4 linked regions of the Homo sapiens genome follow. The protein of the gene in region 1 purifies or fractionates together with the protein of each later gene. This does not show direct contact. Each region holds a gene or a part of one and is shown in the gene's direction. Other genes may lie near its edges. The genes, in order: RBM5, DBT, SIRT5 and SF3A3.

The links.
Region 2: the proteins of RBM5 (region 1) and DBT purify together in Homo sapiens (affinity purification with mass spectrometry; one large-scale study listed by BioGRID and IntAct). This does not show direct contact.
Region 3: the proteins of RBM5 (region 1) and SIRT5 purify together in Homo sapiens (affinity purification with mass spectrometry; one large-scale study listed by BioGRID and IntAct). This does not show direct contact.
Region 4: the proteins of RBM5 (region 1) and SF3A3 purify together in Homo sapiens (affinity purification with mass spectrometry; one large-scale study listed by BioGRID and IntAct). This does not show direct contact.

Annotation. Positions count from the first base shown.
Region 1 is NC_000003.12:50,105,173-50,110,633, forward strand, and holds part of RBM5 (RNA-binding protein 5), read left to right. Parts: intron 1-376; coding exon 377-537; intron 538-1,594; coding exon 1,595-1,692; intron 1,693-2,309; coding exon 2,310-2,397; intron 2,398-2,897; coding exon 2,898-2,975; intron 2,976-3,059; coding exon 3,060-3,132; intron 3,133-4,430; coding exon 4,431-4,516; intron 4,517-5,206; coding exon 5,207-5,291; intron 5,292-5,461. UniProt on the Homo sapiens protein: Component of the spliceosome A complex. Binds to ssRNA containing the consensus sequence 5'-AGGUAA-3'. Regulates alternative splicing of a number of mRNAs.
Region 2 is NC_000001.11:100,242,635-100,248,095, reverse strand, and holds part of DBT (lipoamide acyltransferase component of branched-chain alpha-keto acid dehydrogenase complex, mitochondrial isoform 1 precursor), read left to right. Parts: intron 1-3,493; exon of another isoform or gene 3,494-3,553; intron 3,554-5,461. UniProt on the Homo sapiens protein: The branched-chain alpha-keto dehydrogenase complex catalyzes the overall conversion of alpha-keto acids to acyl-CoA and CO(2).
Region 3 is NC_000006.12:13,580,064-13,585,524, forward strand, and holds part of SIRT5 (NAD-dependent protein deacylase sirtuin-5, mitochondrial), read left to right. Parts: intron 1-4,012; 5' UTR 4,013-4,047; coding exon 4,048-4,162; intron 4,163-4,923; exon of another isoform or gene 4,924-5,064; intron 5,065-5,461. UniProt on the Homo sapiens protein: NAD-dependent lysine demalonylase, desuccinylase and deglutarylase that specifically removes malonyl, succinyl and glutaryl groups on target proteins.
Region 4 is NC_000001.11:37,968,304-37,973,764, reverse strand, and holds part of SF3A3 (splicing factor 3A subunit 3), read left to right. Parts: intron 1-4,029; coding exon 4,030-4,194; intron 4,195-4,300; coding exon 4,301-4,411; intron 4,412-5,461. UniProt on the Homo sapiens protein: Component of the 17S U2 SnRNP complex of the spliceosome, a large ribonucleoprotein complex that removes introns from transcribed pre-mRNAs.

The DNA of each region.
Region 1 (5,461 bases):
TGTTAAAAATTGACCTCAGTTGTCAGGAGATGGAGACCATCCTGGCTAACACGGTGAAACCCTGTCTCTACTAAAAATACAAAAAATTAGCTGGGTGTGGTGGCACACACCTGTAATCCCAGCTACTCCGTCTCAAAAAAAAAAAAAAATTGACCTCAGTTGGAAATTTCTGTTCTCCTACCCTTTTGTAAGGAGCAGCAGCAGCTTCGGGTTGTCCCTTAAAAGACAGGATTTTTAGAATCTTCTCCATGTCAGGGTAGAAAATACACTAGGAATGTCACAAATGGATTTGTATGTACTTGACCCTATCTTGGAAAACTTTGGTACATTGGTGGTGGGAATGCATGTGTATGTCATTTGTCTCATTTACCCCTAGCGATCATTCTTCGGAACATAGCTCCGCACACTGTGGTGGATTCCATCATGACAGCACTGTCTCCTTACGCGTCTTTAGCTGTCAATAACATCCGCCTCATAAAAGACAAACAGACCCAGCAGAACAGAGGCTTCGCATTTGTGCAGCTGTCCTCTGCAATGGTGAGGTTCTCATCGATTCTTTCCTTTTTAAAAGAAACAGCTTTAAGAGGCAAATGTGGTTCATCCAGTTTTGAAACTGTCTGAGGCTCCTAAAGCCCAAGATGCAAGGCTCCCTAATGACAGTTTTTGCACTGCTAAATTACAGGACTGATGACTTCAGTAAGTAGTAAAAATAATGTGTATACCTATAGGCAACTGGCAGAATTTTTTGAGCCACAGTTTAGTCCTTGGTACTTTGTTTTTTGTTGTTGTTGTTCTTTTTTGGGATGGAGTCTCACTGTCGCCCAGGCTGGAGTGCGGTGGCACCATCTCGGATCACTGCAACCTCTGCCTCCAGGGTTCAAGCGATTCTCCTGCCTCAGCCTCCTGAGTAGCTGGGATTACAGGTGCCCGCCACCACGCCCAGCTATTTTTTTTTTTTTTTTTTTTTTTTTTTTTTTTTTGAGAGGGAGTCTCGTTCTGTCGCCCAGGCTGGATGGAGTGCAGTGGTGTGATCTCGGCTCACTGCAAGCTCCATCTCCCCAGGGTTCACGCCATTCTCCCGCCTCAGCCTCCTGAGTATCTGGGATTACAGGCGCTCACCACCATGCTCAGCTAATTTTTTGTATTTTTAGTAGAGATGGGGTTTCACTGTGTTAGCCAGGATGGTCTTGATCACCACCTCTGCCTCCCAAAGTGCTGGGATTACAGGCGTGAGCCACCGCGCCCAGCCACGCCCAGCTAATTTTTGTATTTTTAGTAGAGACAGGTTTTTGCCATGTTGGCCAGGCTGGTCTCGAACTCTTGACTTCAAGTGATCCGCTCATCTCAGCCTCCCAAGTGCTAGATGTACTTTGTTTTAGATTGGTTTAGCATTTGCTCTTTTGGTAATACTGGAAACCTTCACATCTTAGAGGAAAGAGAGATATTCCTTTCTTGAGGTTTCATATCTGCAAACACAATAAGGAATTAATTGCCTTTTATTTTTTAATAGAAAACTACTTCTTTGAATGGGGTGGATGGTAGGGAGAGATTTTTAATTGCATTACACGTTTTTTTCCTTCACATTCTCCTTCAGGATGCTTCTCAGCTGCTTCAGATATTACAGAGTCTCCATCCTCCTTTGAAAATTGATGGCAAAACTATTGGGGTTGATTTTGCAAAAAGTGCCAGAAAGTGAGTGGCTTCATTGTCCTTATTTCAAACTACTGCATATGCACATTTGTACAGTGTGCTAACTGAACGCCAAGCCTGTGCCCCAAGTATGTTGAGACACTGTGATCCTCCCTGATTGCCAAGGCCAGGAGGGACACGTTTGTCTTCTTTTAGTGATTATTCCCTACTGTCCTGTGTAACCAGTTGATGAAGTTGCCTGAAATGGTTTCAGATCAGGAGAAAGGCAAGTATGGCAGATGGGTTGAGAACACATGCTTTGCAAACTGCAGCAGTATAGTGCTAACCCATCCAGAAATAACCCATTCCTTCCAGAACAGCGTGCTAATAATTTCATGTATATAGTGCTTAACTCTAACACGGTAAATTTCCCTTTTTTTAGTATCATTGCACATTCAAAAAACTCTTCGTTAGATGGCAGGTTACAAGGTAGAACAATGATACTACAGGGCCACTTGCTTACTGAGGAATTTCCCCATGAAGAGCCCTCCCCCTGTGAAATGTGGCCTTGCTGGCATTTGAGAACTGACAAAGGGTGGAGTGAATCAGTTGGTGGTATAGGGGCACTAATTGTGGGAATACTGTGATAGAATCACATGATTGGATCTTTGTGGTTTCAGAGACTTGGTCCTCTCAGATGGTAACCGCGTCAGCGCTTTCTCTGTAGCTAGTACGGCTATTGCTGCTGCTCAGTGGTCATCCACCCAGGTAAGATCGAGGATCTTTTTGCTCAAGGTAGTGTGGTGGTGGTGCCCAGATTCACAGACGTGACCTCTCCTGTGGTACTCGCAGTATGAGCTCTTTTCTTTTCTTTTTTTTTTTTTTTTTTTTTTTTTTTTTTTGAGACAGAGTATCACTCTCGTCACCCGGGCTGGAGTGCAATGGTGCAATCTTGGCTCACTGCAAGCTCCACCTTCCAGGTTCAAGTGGTTCTTCTGTCTCAGCCTCTTGAGTAGCTGGGATTACAGGTACCTGCCACCACGCCTGGCTAATTTTTGTATTTTAGTAGAGATGGGATTTCACCACGTTGGCCAGGCTGGTCTTGAACTCCTGACCTCAGGTGATCCACCCACGTCAGCCTCCCAAAGTGCTGGGATTACAGCCGTGAGCCACAGCGCCCAGCATCATGAGCTCATTTTTAGGGACTTCTGAATTTTTTTCCTTAATGCCTACTAAGTTTGTCTTTGTCTCATTTTGATGTTTTGTAGTCTCAAAGTGGTGAAGGAGGCAGTGTTGACTACAGTTATCTGCAACCAGGTCAAGATGGCTATGCCCAATATGCTCAGGTAGGTAGATTTTAGCAGCATCCACCTTATAGTCTTGCAGAGTGTGTCTGAGAATAGCAGCTTTAATGGTGGACTTTTCTTCAGTATTCACAGGATTATCAGCAGTTTTATCAACAACAAGCTGGAGGATTGGAATCTGATGCATCATCTGCATCAGGTAGTAAACTTCATCTCCCTTTTACCTTTTGTTTAAGCACTTACAGTTGAAGAAATATGATTAAATGTCCTAACTGGACCAAAAGCTACAAGTCCATTTCTCTGTAAGATTGTAGGGGGCATGGCCGGGCACGGTGGCTCACGCCTGTAATCCCAGCACTTTGGGAGGCCAAGGCAGGTGGATCACGAGGTCAGGAGTTCAAGACCAGCCTGGCCAACATGGTGAAACCCCATCTCAGCTAAAACTACAGAAATTAGCCAGGTGCGGTGGCAGGCGCCTGTAATCCCAGCTACTCAGGAGGCTGAGGCAGGAGAATTGCTTGAACCCGAGCGGCAGAGATTGCAGTGAGCTGAGATTGCGCCACTGCACTCCAGCCTGGGCGACAGAGTGAGATTCTGTCTCAGAAAGAAAAAAAAAAGAATGTAGGGGGCATATTCAGGGCTGTCATCATGTACCCAAGGTTCTGGGGAAGAATACGGTTATTTGTGTACACCAGGAGTTAATACAAGGTCTTAGAGACCATGTTGTGATGAGTTTAATTCTTGGAATTCAACTCTGTATTTCCCCTCTCTGTGTTTGGAGTCGTGAGTGCCCACGTAAGTTCAGGTGAGCAGAGAGGATGTGGCCCTGGAGACTGGTGCTCAGACATCAATCAGAAGAGCTACTCTAAGAAGCCTTGGCTTTAATTTTTGTTTCAGGCTTTAAAAAGCCTTGTGAGTTAAATCTTTCTCAACCCCAGAGCAAATATAGATCCTTTCTTCTCTTCCTTTTCTCTTCTTTTTTTTTTGAGACGGAGTCTCGCTCTGTTGCCCAGGCTGGAGTGCGGTGGCGTTATCTCGGTTCACTGTGAGCTCTGCCTCCCAGGTTCACGCCATTCTCCTGCCTTAGCCTCACAAGTAGCTGGAACTACAGGTGCCTGCCACCACTCCCGGCTAATTTTTTGTATTTTTAGTAGAGACGGGGTTTCACCGTGTTAGCCAGGATGGTCTCAATCTCCTGACCTCGTGATCGGCTCGCCTTTTCCTTCCAAAGTGCTGGGATTACAGGCCTGAGCCACTGCACCCGGCCTCTTCTCTTTTTCTTAGCCATGATACAGAATCCTTAACTTTGTATATCACATCTAGTAGAATTATAAGAAAATGAAAATGTCACAGATTCCAGGGTACTTAGTGGAAGTTAGCTTATGAAGAACTGACATATACAATGACAGAAGAAGGCTAGATTGGGCATTACAAATAAAGATGTTTGGGTTGGCGTTCAGTGCCTTGGCTTTCCCTAACACTTGTGTTTATCATCAGGCACAGCAGTGACCACCACCTCAGCGGCTGTAGTGTCCCAGAGTCCTCAGCTGTATAATCAAACCTCCAATCCACCTGGCTCTCCGGTAATCCTGTTGTCCTATATACAAAACTCGTGGCTGATGGGGAAATTTTGTTTTGCTATACAAGTATTACCCTTTCCTGTTGTATGAGCCAGGATTGAGTAATACACACTTCAACCTTATTTCTTTCTGTTGTTTTAAAATATTAATTTTATGATATATATGTGCATGTATATTTTAAATATAAAATTTCAACTGTGTATTTACACTTTATGCATGCTTGACCTTTAGAAAGTTGTCGCCGGGGCCGGGTGTGGTGGCTCGCGCCTGTAATCCCAGCACTTTGGGAGGCCGAGGCGGGTGGATCACGAGGTTAGGAGATCAAGACCATCCTGGCTAACACGGTGAAACCCCGTCTCTACTAAAAATACAAAAATTAGCCGGGCGTGGTGGCACATGCCTGTAATCCCAGCTACTCGGGAGGCTGAGGCAGGAGAATTGCTTGAACCCCGGAGACGGAGGTTGCAGTGAGCCAAGATTGCGCCACTGCAGTCCAGTTTGGGCAACAGAGCAAGACTCCTCTTGAAAAAGAAAGCAAAAAAGTTGTCAACATGTGTTTTGCTGAGGGATTGCCTTAGATTATTGCTACAGTGTGTCTGTCAGGGGAGCCCTTCCTCCTGGATGATTGCAGTGATTTAGCTCTCTTAAAAGGCTTTACAGTTGAAATTATATTGAAGCTGCTGTTCTTTCCAGACTGAGGAAGCACAGCCTAGCACTAGCACAAGTACACAGGCCCCAGCCGCTTCCCCTACTGGTGTAGTTCCTGGTACCAAATATGGTAAGCCAAACCTCATGGGGCTGTTGACAGTTGGAAGGTCTTAGTTGTTGTCTTTGTTTAATGAGAGTTCTTCTCCCTTTGCGGGTGTCAGAGGGACACTTGGGGATGTGAGACAGAGAAGAAACATTAGGCCTGCTGCATCTCACTGGCTTAGAATTTGAAATAAAGCC
Region 2 (5,461 bases), on another chromosome or scaffold:
GAGTCTCTCTCTGTCACCCAGGCTGGAGTACAGTGGTGCGATCTTGGCTCACTGCAACCCCTGCCTCCCAGTTTCAAGCGATTCTTTTGCCTCAGCCTCCCAAATATCTGGGACTACAGGCACACGCCACCATGCCCAGCTAATTTTTGTATTTTTAGTAGAGACGAGGTTTCACCATGATGGCCAGGCTGGTCTCAAACTCCTGACCTCAAGTGATCCGCCTGCCTTGGCCTCCCAAAGTGCTGGGATTACAGGATGAGCCACCATGCCCAGCAGAAAAGCTTGTCTTTAGTCTTCTCACAGTGTCTGCCGTAAAGCTTCAAAGCAGGTCAGACTCTCCAGCCTCTAGAACTGAACCCTCAAACCAGTTTCTCTTAATTTTTTTTTTTTTTTTTTTTGAGAAGAGTCTTGATCTGTTGCCCAGGCTGGAGTGCAGTGGTGCAATCTCGGCTTACTGCAACCTCCACCTCCTGGGTTCAAGTGATTTTCCTGCCTCAGCCTCCCAAGTAGCTGGCACTACAGGCGCGAACCACCATGCCTGGCTAATTTTTGTATTTTTAGTAGAGACGGGGTTTTGCCATGTTGGCCAGGCTGGTCTTGAATTCCTGACCTCAGGTGATCCTCCTGCCTTGGCCTCCCAAAGTGCTGGGATTACAGGCGTAAGCCACTGCCCCTGGCCCAGTTTCTCTTGATTTGAGCCTGTAATTCTCTCTGAAGAAATCTAGTCATGATTTTTCCACCCTGCCCTCAACTGGAGGTGTCTTGGCCCTTCTTAACTGGATTATATGCCTCCAGTGGTCTTGTAGTTTTTCCAACCCATTCTCCATAGTGTAGCCAGAGTGATCTTATAAAGTAAGAGACATTTGATAATATCATTTTCTTGTTTAAAACTGCCTTCAGCAAAATGTCCAAAATTCAAATGACTATGAGGCAATTTATGATCTGGACCTTTCCAGTCTCTTAGATCTCATTCCTTACCAAAACCTACCCATCCCAACCCCAACTCTGACACTTCCCCACCCTTATTCCACACTAAACTACACTAGAAGTCTGTTGAACAACTTGAGTTATTTGCACACACACTGTGCTTTCTGTCTCAACTCCAGACCTTTGCACATGTATTTCCTCTGCTTTAAAGACTCTTGCCTTACTCCACTGTGGCCTTATCTGCAACATACCTCATCCCCGGGGTTACACCTACTCATCCGTCAGGTCTTACTTCAACATAACTTTCTCCAGCTAGGTTCCCTTAACACACTCTATTTCCTTCATTATAGCACGTGTTATAATCACCGGTTTACTTGTCTTTACCTTTCACTGTACTGTGCATTCTATAAGGGAAGAAATTGCATCTGTTTTGTTCTCTGTATAATCCCAAGTGCCTGGCACATTGTAGGTGTGCATAAATATTTTTTAAATGACTCAGTAAAAAAAAAAGTCAGGTTTGTAAACTCTTCTAAAAAGTTGTAAGCAAAAACAGTTCTTACCCCCGTAGTAAATTATTAAAATAGCCTTATAATGTTGTGTTTTACATTTCCCTAGGACATAATGCATTTGACTCTTGATTAATCATGCCATTTGGAATTTTTCTGTTGTGTCTGTCTTCCTGTAGTAAAGTGTAAGCAATTTGAATTCAGGAACTATATATTGCATCTTATTTAGCTTTGCATTTCCAAGTCCAGTACAATGTCTGACTTTAGGAGTGCTCAACAGCTGCCTATTGAATTATTATTAAATATTTCCTTAATACGCTACTTTGGTGAACAGTTTCATTTCCCTTTATGTTCTTCTGTCCTGGTTGTGATATTGAATTATTAATTTTTTATTTTTATTTTTTTTGAGACGGCGTCTCACTCTGTCACCAGGCTGGAGTGCAGTGGTGCAATCTCAGCTCACTGCAACCTCCGCCTCCCGGGTTCAAGCGATTCTCCTGCCTCAGCCTCCCAAGTAACTGGGCAGGCACGCGCCACCATGCCCAGCTAATTTTTGTATTTTTAATAGAGACGGGGTTTCGCTGTGTTGGCCAGGATGGTCTTGATCTCTTGACCTCGTGATCCACCTGCCTCAGTCTCCCAAAGTGCTGGGATTACAGGCATGAGCCACTGCACCTGGCCTAATTTTTTATTTTATTTATTATTATTTTTGAGACAAGTTCTTGCTCTGTTGCCCAGGCTGGAGTGTGGTGGCATGATCTTGGCTCACTGCAGTCTTGACCTCCTGGGCTCAAGTGGTCCTCCTTCCTCAGCCTCCCAAGTAGCTGGGACTACAGGCATTCACCACCACAGCCAACTAATTATTTTGATTTTTAGTAGACAAAGTCTCAATGCATTGCCCAGTATGGTCTTGAACTCCTGGGCTCCAGTGATCCTTCTGCTTTGGACTCCCAAAATGTTGGGATTACAGGCATGAGTCACTGCACCTGGCTGAATTATTTTTAAAATCAAGGAAAGACCTATTTTAGTCAAATAATTGCATTAAGACTTAGACTACACGTATAGTTGTTCAACCAGGATGTATTTGAGAATGAAAATGGTGTTATTAATAATTGCCTTGAATCACTAGAGGTGAATTGGGTGTCACCTCAGGCAAATTGGTACAGATGGTCCCCATAGAACTAGGTGTCTTTAGTATTGTTCATAGATGAATTTAGAATTGCTTCAAATATAAAATATATAAAACTGATAATTCCATAAGCATGCCTTTTTAAAATTGGAGGTTTAAAGCCTTATGCTTAATTTACTAGTCTAGCTGGGTGTGGTGGCTCACACCTGTAATCCTAGCATTCTGGGAGACTGAGACAGGAGGATTGCTTCAGCCCAGGAGTTTAAGACCATCCTGGGCAAAAAAGTGAGACCCTGTCTTTATTTTATTATTATTATTATTATTTGAGATGGGATTACAGGTGTGAGCCACTGCACCCAGCCAACCCTGTCTTTGAAGAAAATTAAAAAATATAATTTACTAGTCTAATAGTCTGTTTCTAGAAAAAAAATTTAGAATTCTAGCTTGAAAAATTATTTCTTCTCCTCTTTCCTGTTGCCTGTTAATCCATCTATTCAGCAACTTCACAGTGTTTTTAGCCTTCTCCTCAGAGCCATTCAATTACTATTATATTAATCATATACTGCCTATGGTACTTTTGTTGCTTTTTTTCTTTTTCTACTATTAATTACCTCAGTCAGGAGCCTGTTGCTTTGTGTCTCAAATACTATACAGTACTCTCCCCTTCTTATCTGTGGTCTCAGTTAGCCATGATCTACTGTAGTCTGAAAATAGGTGAGCACAGTACAGTAAGATATTTTGAGAGAGAGACCACATTCACAAAACCTTTATTACAGTATATTATTATAATTTTTCTATTTTATTATCAGTTATTATTATTACTGTCTTACTGTGTCTGATTTATAAATTAAACTTTATCATAGGTATGTATATATAGGAAAAACACGGTATATGTAGAATATGTAGGATTCAGTACTGTCCATGGTTTTAGGCACCCACCGGGGGATCTTGAACGTGTCCACTGCACATAAGGAGATAAGAGAGGAATACGGTAATAGTTATTTTTTTAAAAAAATCCTTTTTTGATAATTTTGGTATGTAATAGTTTCTTGACTTCTCCCTTTCTCTCCAGATTTTATCTGTTATAATCTATTCAATAAACCACTACTAATTTCCTAATCCTTTTTCTTCAATAACCCATAATGTATGAGTTCAAACTCCTTATACTGACATTATAGTCATCAACCATTTCCTCCTTGAGCTGTTTCCATTGCTCTCTTTTATACCTTTGGTCAAGCCAAATCAAGCCGCTCAATGTCCCAGCAGATATGCTAAGTCAATTTCTGCTGTAGTTTATTTATGCTGTTTCCTCTGCCTTAAAAGTGCCCTTCTGCTCTTTTATTATGTATGCTTATTATGCACAGTGCAGCTTAAATCTTCCTCCAAGAAGCCTTCCCAGGTCACACTAACGTGAAAAAAAAGCCCACCAGACCCCTCTACTTAAACTCCTTTTTTTTTTTTTTTTTTTTTGAGATAGAATTTTGCTCTTGTTGCCTAGGCTGGAGTGCAATGAGATTACAGCTATGAACCACTGTGCCCGGCCTGCTTAAACTCCTTTATCACGTACTGCCTATGTCTCTTTTTTTTTTTTTTCGTAAACCTATGGACTATATTAAAGAAGCCTATGCCTCTTATTACAAAAAGTTAGAGCATGCATGTCCATGCTTGAGTGTGTTTGTATGTGTGTTTATTTTCTCACATACGTTGTAAACTCTTTGAAATTAGGGATTATTTCTCCTATTTCTAGGGTCTTTGACATCAAATTTATTTAGCTTCAGAGCTCGATTGTTCCACTTATTTGCTGTGTGACCTTGGACAAATTACTTCACCTTTCCCATCAGTTTCCCGTGTGTTGAAGAGGGCTAACGTGTATGTTCCACAGGGAAATTGTAAATGTAAAGATGATGTCTGGGCCGGGCACCATGGCTCATGGCCTGTAATCCTAGTACTTTGAGAGGCCAAGGTGGGCGGATTGCCTGAGCTGAGGAGGTCGAGAGCACCCTGGGCAACATAATGAAACCCCGTCTCTACTAAAATACACACAAAAAAAGTTTAGCTGGACATGATGGCACATGCCTGTAGTCCCAGCTACTTGGGAGGCTGAGGCACGAGAATCGCATGAACCTGGGAGGCGGAGGTTGCAGTAAGCTGAGATCGTGCCACTGCACTCCAGCCTGGGTGACAGAGTGAAACTCCATCTCAAAAAAAAAAGAAAAAAAGATGATGTCTAAAAAGGCTATTTTTCTTTTTTTCTTTCTTTTTTTTTTTTTTTTGGAGACAAGGTCTCTCTGTCACCTAGGCTGAAGTGCAGTGGTGTGATCTTGGCTCATTGCAACCTCCGCCTCCCAGGTTCAAGTGATTCTTGTGCCTCAGCCTCCCAAGTAGCTGGGACTACGTGTGCCACCATGTCCAGCTGATTTTTGTATTTTTAGTAGAGAGGGGGTCTCGTCATGTTGACCAGGCTGGTCTCAAACTCTTGACCTCAAGCAATCCACTCACCTCAGCCTCCCAAAGTGATGGGATTACAGGCCAGAGCCACCATGCCTGGCCTGTCTGAAAAGAAAGTACTCAGCACATGGGAGGCACTCAATAAATGTTAAGCGTGGTGGTTTATGCTGCCCCGACCCATGAATAGTTCAATACGAGTTGTGTTGTTGTTGAAGGTAAGACCTTCTAGTAGTTTAATTTTCTTTCAAATGTTTTACAAATATGAACAATTTTATTTAAATTAAGGTGAATCTATATACTTCAAAACTTTCCTTTATTGTCCCTAAGTTTTATGTCTGATGAAACAGAGGTTGATTCACTCCTTTGATTTTATTGTTGACCAAGAGTCAGGATTATGGGAGCTGAAGGAGAAAGCAAGGACAAACAAAATGGAAATGTTTGGGAAAGAGAA
Region 3 (5,461 bases), on another chromosome or scaffold:
TCACCAGAGTGGCTGCTGGGGCCCATGAGTCTGTTCACTTCCCTCTAGCAGCCAGTCTGCCTGCCTTCCCTGCAGAAGTAACTTTAGGCAGCCAGACAGCCTTGTCCCCTGAGGTTGTTCTGGAGACACTACACCATGTTTCTCTAACCTCTTCTCTTTTTGAGTGTCAATCTTCTTCTACAGTCTTTTTGATTGCAGAAGAGACAGGATACATTGAAAACGTGTTGACTTGCTTGCTTATTTGTAGGTGAGGTTTATCATATTACTCCTTACGCACTGTAAAATTCACGCTTTTTATTATACAGTTCTATGAGTGTTGAAAAAAATCACAAAAATAAAGATAATGTAATTTTACGTTGCTCTAAAAATTTCTCTGCTCCCCCTTACTCCCCCGACCCCTGTCCCTGGAAACCACTGGTGTGATTTCTGTACCAACAGTTTTGCCTTTTTAAAATGTCTTATAAATGGTCTCAAAAACTATGTAGCCTTTTGTATCTGGCTTCTTTCACTTAGCATAATGCTTCTCTGTCTCTCTTTCCCTCTCCCTCCCTCTGTTTCTTCCTCTCTTTTTCTCTTTCTCTCTTTCTCCCTCACTCTCGCTCCTGCTCTGGCCTTCTCTCCTTTCTTTGACAGGGTCTCACTCACCCAGGCAGGGAGTCCAGTGGCACAATCATGACTCACTGCAGCCTCAACCTTCTGGGCTCAAGTGATCCTCCTACCTCAGCCTCCTGAGTAGCTGGGACCATAGGCATGCACTGCCATGCCCAGCTACTTTTTTGTAGAGATGGGGTCTCACTTTGTTGCCCAGGCTGGTCTCGAACTCCTGGGCTCAAGTGATCCTCCTGCCTCAGCCTCCCAAAGTCCTGGGATTACAGGTGTGTGCCACCATGGCTGGCCCTTTTTTTTCTTGTTGTGAAGCAATTTTATTTTGAAATAATTTTAGGCTTACAGAAATGTTGCAAAAATAGTACACAGAGTTCTCATTATACCATTTACCCAATTTCCTCTAATGTTCACATCTTACCTAACTAGAGTGCAATGATCTAAACCAGGACAAGTACTACACCTAGACATTTACATATACAGTACTAGTAACTAATTTACAGGCTTCATTCAAATTTTGCCATTTGTCCTACTAATGTCCCTTTTCAGGTCTTGAATCCAGCCCAGGATCCCACGTAGCATTTACTTGTCATGTCTCATTAGGACCTGGGACAGTTTCTCCAGTTCTTATCTTTCAAAACTTTGATACTTTTCTGAAGAGTATTGGCCAGTTTTGCTGTAGAGTGTGTAGAACGCCCCTCAGCTTGAGTTTGGCATTTTCTCATAACTAAATTGCAGTCATGAATGCCACACAAGTGATGCTTTGCCCTTCTCATTGCATCATATGAGGAGGTAGGTGGAGTCGCCATGTCTTATTACTGGTGATGTTAACTTTGATCACTTGGTTAAGGTGGTAGCTGCCAGCTTTTCTACTATAGAGTTATTATTGGATAACACTTTTAAAGATTCATTCATGCTGTTGAAGGTATTAGTAGTTTGTTCTTATTGCTGAAGAGTCTTCATGGTATGGATAAACCACAATTTGTTTACCCATTTATAAATTGATGGACATTTGGTTTGCTTCTAGTCTTGAGCCTGGCACTATCTGATAGGCCTTGGTGTTCTATTGAACATAAACCACGTCACAGAGCACCGATATCAGACAGGGCCACTCTGTGACCACAATGGGTCAGGACAAGAACAAGGCCACTCAGTAATCACGTCTGAACTGGGACCGAAACAGGAACATTGTTGAAGCCACAAAGATGACCAAACATCCTCCCATGCCGCTAACATGAGGGACTCCTGCTTGGCCACTCACAGCTCTAGCCTCTCTTCATTCCTTCCACCTTTTAGATAAGATCCATTAACAGCATCAAATCCAGAACAAAGCCCCACTTCCATGAACCTCTCCCCAACATGATCTAACACAAGCACAAATCCTCTAATCAGTCCATTCCAGGTTCCTAACAGATGCTGCAGTTCTTCATGGCGTGTTCTATCTCTCGCAACTTGCTCGAGTACAAGTGTGTTCCTTGGACTGGAAGGCATTGATAATCCAAACAATATATAAACACATATGGAAAATCCTTGCTCAGCTCTAATCTCCTTACATAGCGTTTCCCACCCTATACTCAATTCTTTTTACTAATTTCTTGTGAATTCTTTTTTTGTTTTTATAGCAAATGCAAGAAAGTTAAGGTATATTCTTTTATCCCCTTGCCTTTCTCTTACAAAATACAATTGTGGTAAAACACATGTAACAAAATTTAGCATTCTAACCATTATTAAGGGTACAGTTCAGTCTATTCGCATTGTTGTGTAGCTAATCCCCTGAACTCATTTCATCTTGTAAAACTGAAGCTCTATACTCATTATTTTTAAGTAAAATATGTGTCTAATAAAATTAACCCTTTGTTAGTATTGAGTTTTATGAGTTTTGACAGATACAGTCATGTAACTACTACCACAATCGAGATATATAACAATACCATTGCCTCCCACCAAAAAAAAAAAAAAAAAAAATTCCCGCATGCCCCTTTTTAATCACTCCTCCCCTTTCTGGCAACCACCGTTATATTTTCTGCCCCCACAGTTTTGTTGGACAATCAGTGTCATTGTTCCAAATGTTGTCTTTCTCTGTGTTTGTTTTCTTTTTATAAAATTCCTCAGGTATAGACAAAGATTTACTGAATGTGCCTTAAGATCCACGAGTTTCTGTGACACGATGTTATCTTAATACTATTGTCACAGTACACTTCTTTCCTTCAGAATTTAGTTCTCAGTTAGAAATTACATTCTCACAGAAACTACTTTGGGCTGGGCATGGTGGCTCATGCTTGTAATCCCAGCACTTCGGGAGGCCTAGGTGGGTGGATGGCTTGAGCTCAGGAGATCAAGACCAGCCTGGCCAACATGGTGAAACCCTGTCTCTACCAAAAATACAAAAATTAGCCGGGCATGGTGGCGCGTGCCTGTAGTCCCAGCTACTGGGGAGGATGGGGTGGGAGGATCGCTGGAGCCCAGGAAGTCAAGGCTGTAGTGGGCCGTGATCACGCCACTGCACTCCAGCCTGGGTGACAGAGTGAGACCCTGTCTGAAATAAAAGAAAGAAACTGTACTTTGACCGCAAGTTGAGAGACTAGTGGTGGTTTTCATACCTTCTTTTTTTTCTTCTTTGTTCTTTTTTTTTTTTTTTTTTTTTTGAGATGGAGTTTTCCTCTTGTTGCCCACGCTGGAGTGCAATGGTACAATCTCGGCTCACTGCAACCTCTGCCTCCGGGGTTCAAGTAGTTCTCCTGCCTCAGTTTCCTGAGTAGCTGGGATTACAGGCATGCACCACCACTCCCAGCTAATTTTTTGTATTTAGTAGAGACAGGGTTTCACCATGTTGGTCAGGCTGGTCTCAAACTCCTGACCTCAGGTGATCCACCCATCTCGGCCTCCCAAAGTGGTGGGATTATAGGCGTGAGCCACTGCACCTGGCTTCATACCTTTTGAAAAGCAGCAAGTTTTCAAATGAATTCTCATATTTAACCCTTTCTTGTGCATTTTAGTGGTCCTCAAACTTGAGTAGTTACTAGAATCACCTGGAAATAGATGATGGGGTCCACCCCCAGAGTTTCTGATTCAGCAGCTCTGAGGTGGAACCAGAGGCTGCATTTCTAACAAGATTTCAGGTGATGGCGACGCTGCTGGTCTAGGGAACACGCTTTGAGAAGCACTGCTCCAAGGCACCTCTGCACCTCTAGGAGCACTTGAGAACACAAACGGAAAACAGCCAGTTCAGAGGATGATCTGTTACTAAAGATTTTTTAAAGGACATTCGTGTATGTGTGCGTGTGGGTATAATATAATATACATGATGCGTTTCTGTAATATATAAAATATAAATATTTATACATATTTCCATATATAAAAATATTTGCTGATTGTTTCTACACTATTTGTTTTTGTGATTTTTCTAAAGCCCGCCTCAAGCATTAGAACTACAGACAAACCCTGATGCGACCTCTCCAGATTGTCCCAAGTCGATTGATTTCCCAGCTATATTGTGGCCTGAAGCCTCCAGCGTCCACACGAAACCAGATTTGCCTGAAAATGGCTCGGCCAAGTTCAAGTAAGTCATTTTACCCATTGCCTCACCTGCAGCCAAATGTGAAGTACCTGAAAGTCCTACACTTCGAGAGGAATGTCTCTGTCAAATTAGGTATTGGGCAAGGTTTTGGAGAAAGCCACTCTGTCATCTTCTCTTTTTTTTTTTGAGACGGAGTCTTGCTCTGTCGCCAGGCTGGAGTGCGGTGGTGCGACCTCGGCTCACCGCAACCTCCGCCTCCTGGGTTCAAGCAGTTCTCTTGCCTCAGCCTCCCGAGGAGCTGGGACTGCAGGCACATGCCACCACAACCAGCTAATTTTTGTATTTTTAATAGAGATGGGGTTTCGCCATGTTGGCCAGGATGGTCTCGATCTCTTGATCTCGTAATTTGCCTGCCTCAGCCTCCCAAAGTGCTGGGATTACAGGCATGAGCCACCGCGCCCACCTGTCCTCTTCTCTTTTAGGTAATCCCTTCTAGGGCACCTTCAGAGCCTATCTCCTTAATACTCAAGTCCATCTAGGACATTTTGTTGCTTCTGCCAGAATATTTGCATTTAAGCTTTTTACACATGTTTTGTACTATAAAATCCTTATCTCTCTGCAGGGGAGGAAAACTGGTGATTGTCCTATAGGGCAGTATGAGGTTAAATTTTCTCCTGGACAGAAATACTTTGCAGCTCTACCTGGCAAAAACCTACAAATTAACCTGTCTGGGCCCTTAGTCTATAGTGAACTCAGAAGAAGAGTAGGCTTTTTCCTCTCTGGCTCCATTCATGTTTTGGCAGCACAAGGCTGAGAGAAATTAAGACGGTCACGGTGGAACAGAACAGAGGCCTCAGAAATAACACTACACATCTACAACCATCTGATCTTTGACAAACCTGACAAAAACAAGCAGCCTATCTCTGGAAGGGATGTGAGTTCAGGTAGAGCTTTAGTGTGATTGGTGGGGTAGTTGGGTTGGTTGCAACCTGACGAGAATGGCGTGTTGTGACCGTCTTTTGTTATTTCTTTTACTTTTTTATTTTTTAAATTATTTATTTATTTATTTTTTATTATAATTTAAGTTCTAGGGTACATGTGCACAACGTGCAGGTTTGTTACATAGGTATACATGTGCCATGTTGGTTTGCTGCACCCATCAACTCATCATTTACATTAGGTATTTCTCCTGATGCTATCCCTCCCCAAGCCCACCACCCCCCGACAGGCCCCAGTGTGTGATGTTACCCGCCCTGTACCCATGTGTTCTCATTGTTCAACTCCCACTTATGAGTGAGAACGTGTGGTGTTTGGTTTTCTGTCCTTGCGATAGTTTTCTGA
Region 4 (5,461 bases), on another chromosome or scaffold:
TAGCAGCATTATTTACAATCCTTTGGATATATGCCCAGTAATGGGATGGCTGGGTCAAATGGTATTTCTAGTTCTAGATCCTTGAGGAATCGCCACACTGTCTTCCACAATGGTTGAACTAGTTTACAGTCCCACCAACAGTGTAAAAGCGTTCCTGTTTCTCCACATCCTCTCCAGCACCTGTTGTTTCCTGACTTTTTAATCATCGCCATTCTAACTGGTGTGAGATGGTATCTCATTGTGGTTTTGATTTGCATTTCTCTTTGTAGATTCTTTGTAGTTCTTTGTAGATTCTGGATATTAGCCCTTTGTCAGATGGGTAAATTGTAAACATTTTCTCCCATTCTGTAGGTTGCCTGTTCACTCTGATGGTAGTTTCTTTTGCTGTGCAGAAGCTCTTTAGTGTAATTACATCCGATTTGTCAGTTTTGGCTTTTTTTTGCCATTGCTTTTGGTGTTTTAGTCATGAAGTCCTCGCCCATGCCTATGGCCTGAATGGTATTGCCTAGGTTTTCTTCTAGGGTTTTTATGGTTTTAGGTTTAACATTTAAGTCTTTTTTTCTTTTTCTTTTTCTTTTTTTTGTTGGAGACAGAGTCTCACTCTGTCGCCCAGGCTGGAGTGTAGTGGCATGATCCCAGCTCACTGCAACCTCCACCTCCTGGTTCCAAGCGATTCTCCTGCCTCAGCCTCCCGAGTAGCTGGGACTACAAGCATGTGCCACCATGCCCAGTTAATTTTGTGTATTTAGTGAGACAGGGTTTCACCATGTTAGCCAGGCTGATCTCGAACTCCCGACCTCAGGTGATCCACCCACCTTGGCCTCCCAAAGTGCTGGGATTACAGGCGTGAGCCACCGCACCCGGCCCACATTTAAGTCTTTAATCCATCTTGAATTAATTTTTGTATAGGGTGTAAGGAAGGAATCCAGTTTCAGCTTTCTACATATGTCTAGCCAGTTTTCCCAGCACCATTTATTAAATAGGGAATCCTTTCCCCATTTCTTGTTTTTGTCAGGTTTGTCAAAGATCAGATGGTTGTAGATGTGTCATACTATTTCCAAGGACTCCGTTCTGTTCCATTGGTCTATATCTCTGTTTTGATACCAGTACCATGCTGTTTTGGTTACTGTAGCCTTGTAGTATAGTTTGAAGTCAGATAGCGTGATGCCTCCAGCTTTGTTCTTTTGGCTTAGGATTGTCTTGGCAAGGCAGGCTCTTTTTTGGTTCCATGTGAACTTTCAAGTAGTTTTTTCCAATTCTGTGAAGAAATTGGTAAGCTTGTGAAGTCATTGGTAGCTTGATGGGGATGGCATTGAGTCTATAAATTACCTTGGGCAGTATGGCCATTTTCACAATATTGATTCTTCCTATCCATGAGCATGGAATGTTCTTCCATTTCTTTGTGTCCTCTTTCATTTCGTTGAGCAGTGGTTTGTAGTTCTCCTTGAAGAGGTCCTTCACATCCCTTGTAAGCTGGATTCCTAGGTATTTTATTCTCTTTGAAGGAATTGTGAAGGGGAGTTCACTCATGATTTGGCTCTCCGTTTATCTGTTATTGGTGTATAAGAATGCTTGTGATTTTTGCACATGATTTTGTATCCTGAGACTTTGCTGAAGTTGCTTATCAGCTTAAGGAGATTTTGGGCTGAGACAATGGAGTTTTCTAAATGTACAATCATGTCATCTGCAAACAGGGACAATTTGACTTCCTTTTTTCCTAATTGAATACCCTTTATTTCTTTCTCCTGCCTGATTGCCCTGGCCGGAACTTCCAACACTATGTTGAATTGGAGTGGTGAGAAAGGGCATCCCTGTCTTGTGCCAGTTTTCAAAGGGAATGCTTCCAGTTTTTGCCCATTCAGTATGATATTGGCTGTGGGTTTGTCATAAATGGCTCTTATTATTTTGAGAAACATCCTATTAATACCTAGTTTATTGAGAGTTTTTAGCATGAAGGGCTGTTGAATTTTGTCAAAGGCCTTTTCTGCATCTATTGAGATAATCATGTGGTTTTTGTCTTTGGTTCTGTTTATATGATGGATTACGTTTATTGATTTGCGTATGTTGAACCAGCCTTGCATCACAGGGATGAAGCCAACTTGATCATGGTGGATAAGTTTTTGATGTGCTGCTGGATTCAGTTTGCCAGTATTTTATTGAGGATTTTTGGATCGATGTTCATCAGGGATATTGTCTAAAATTCTCTTTTTTTTGTTGTGGTCTCTGCCAGGCTTTGGTATCAGGATGATGTTGGCCTCATAAAATGAGTTAGGGAGGATTCCCTCTTTTCCTATTGATTAGAATAGTTTCAGAAGGAATGGTACCAGCTCTTTTTGTACCTCTGGTAGAACTCGGCTGTGAATCCGTCTGGTCCTGGACTTTTTTTTGGTTGGTAGGCTATTAATTATTGCCTCAGTTTCAGAACCTGTTATTGGTCTATTCAGGGATTCAACTTCTTCCTGGTTTAGTCTTGGGAGGGTGTATGTGTCCAGGAATTTATCCATTTCTTCTAGATTTTCTAGTTTGTTTGTGTAGAGGTGTTTATAGTATTCTCTGATGGTAGTTTGTATTTCTGTGGGATCGGTGTTGATATCTCCTTTTTCGTTTTTTATTGCGTCTGTTTGATTCTTCTCTCTTCTTTATTAGTCTTGCTAGCGGTCTTATCAATTTTGTTGATCTTTTCAAAAAACCAGCTCCTGGATTCATTGATTTTTTTTGAAGGGTTTTTTTGTGTGTCTGTCTCCTTCACTTCTCCTCTGATCTTAATTATTTCTTGCCTTCTGCTAGCTTTTGAATGTGTTTGCTCTTGCTTCTCTAGTTCTTTTAATTGTGATGTTAGGGTGTCAGTTTTAGATCTTTCCTGCTTTCTTTTGTGGACATTTAGTGCTATAAATTTCCCTTTACACGCTGCTTTAAATGCGTCCCAGAGATTCTGGTATGTTGTGTCTTTGTGCTCATTGGTTTCCAAGAACACTTTATTTCTGCCTTCATTTCGTTATTTATCCAGTAGTCATTCAGGAGCAGGTTGTTCAGTTTCCATGTAGTTGAGCGGTTTTGAGTGAGTTTCTTAATCCTGAGTTCTAGTTTGACTGCACTGTCGTCTGAGAGACAGTTTGTTATAATTTCTGTTCTTTTACATTTGCTGAGGAGTGCTTTACTTCCAACTATGTGGTCAATTTTGGAATAAGTGTGATGTGGTGCTGAGAAGAATGTATATTCTGTTGATTTGGGGTGGAGAGTTCTGTAGATGTCTATTAGGTCCGCTTGGTGCAGAGCTGAGTTCAATTCCTGGATATCCTTGTTAACTTTGTCTCGTTGATCTGTCTAATGTTGACAGTGGGGTGTTAAAGTTTCCCATTATTATTGTGTGGGAGTCTAAGTCTCTTTGTAGGTCTCTGAGGACTTGCTTTATGAATCTGGGTGCTCCTGTATTGTGTGCATATTTTTTTTTTTTTTTTTTGAGAAGGAGTCTCACTCTGTCGCCCAGGCTGGAGTGCAGTGGCGGGATCAGAGCTCACTGCATCCTCAAACTCCTGGGCTCAAGCAGTCCTCCTAACTCAGCCTCCTAAAGAGCTGGGATCACAGGTGCACACCTCCATGCCTAGCCAATTTGTAAATGTTTTGTAGAGATGAGATCCCATTGTGTTGCCCAGGCTGATGTCAAACTCCTGGCCTCAAGTGATTCTCCCACCCCAGCCTCCAAAAGTGATGGGATTACAGGCGTGAGCCACCACACCCAGCCAGGAAATATTTTAGAGTCAGAATAGATGAGACTGTTTTCTGTTGTTCTATAATAGCCTCAGATGAGTAATTAGGCAAGTGATGTAAAACCTTTGACTCTTTTCTTTGGGATCAGGTAGAGCCTGCTGATAAGGAGTTCTGATATGAAGGCAAGATTTTCCTTTATTCTGTAAGAAAGAACCTTATCCTTGGAAGTAAGGGGTCAGCAAAAGTTACAGGAAAACAGGAAATTTCCCTTCTTATTCTGCACTACTTTTTTCTGACTTTTCATTTATGGACCTGCTTTAGGAACAGCGACATCTCACTCATGAAAATGTACAGCGCAAGCAAGCCAGGACAGGAGAAGAGCGAGAAGAAGAGGAAGAAGAGCAGATCAGTGAGAGTGAGAGTGAAGATGAAGAGAACGAGATCATTTACAACCCCAAAAACCTGCCACTTGGCTGGGATGGCAAAGTAAGTCTCAGCACTACCACTTTCTCCCCATTCCCCATTTTGGAAACAGATACAGAGTTTAGTAGGCTAACACTTCTTGGTTTTGTTTTGTTTTTTTCTTTTTTAGCCTATTCCCTACTGGCTGTATAAGCTTCATGGCCTAAATATCAACTACAACTGTGAGATTTGTGGAAACTACACCTACCGAGGGCCCAAAGCCTTCCAGCGACACTTTGCTGTAAGGAATTCAGAGCCATTTTTCCTGGGAATTGAAGTAAAAACATGAGACTTTTAGAGAAAAGAGTAGGAGCAGCCTATGTGGACCACTGGTGTCCAGAGCTGAAGGGAATCAGAGAAGGATGGTTTTAAAATCAAGCCCATGGCATTTGACTTTTGGCACCAATGTTAGTCTTAAATACCTGAGATAGTTTCTGGAGGAATTCTACCGCACCACTCTTTGAACCTTATTTGGTTTTCTCTTGCCTGCTCTTAAACTTCTCTGTTTTTGTCTTTCTGCTAGCATTTTAGACCAATTTCTGACTTCTTGGTTATTTCTCTACCCCATTGCTAATACTCAAGATAAAAAATAGGGCTGACTGATCTCTTTCAGATCTTAAATGGATCTTTGCCTCTTGAGAAAATAAAAAATGAAGGGGCTGATATTTATCAAGCCATTCTTGAGACAGGGTATTGTCCGGATGATACTGCTGTAAGTGGGCTCACCTCTAAGTGGGCTCTACTTAGAGTTCTTAGATTTTGGAAGGAAATTTTACAGAAAGGAAAACATTTATGCTAGACCAAGGATGACAAATTTATATGAACTCCTCTCCCCCTCTCTGAGTCATACATATTACTAATTGATAATGGGTCTTTTTTGCTGAGCCCATGAGTGAGTTCTGAATCCTTCTCAGCACCTCCTACAATGATTGGAGTTGGCATCCAGGATAAAGCCCATGCCATTTACCATCCCTTAGTTAAAACTGCCATCATGTCAGTGTATAATCTCCCTGCTCTCTCCTCACCACATCATTGTGCCTAATAAAAGTCTTCTCCTTTACCTACAAAGATGATGCTGACCTGCCATTAGTAACCCCTATTCATGCAGGTGTTTGGAGTTGCTGGGGCTTTGGTAAGTTCTCCTGCAATATGGGAGATGTAGTGAGAGTTGTGATGTTTTTCTGTGATCTTGACCCAGAGGTTTTATGTATAAGACTACTGGGTCTAGAATCTAGGTTTACAAGCCAACCCAGTGAGGCAAACAATGCAGTGCTGCTTTGAAATACCACCC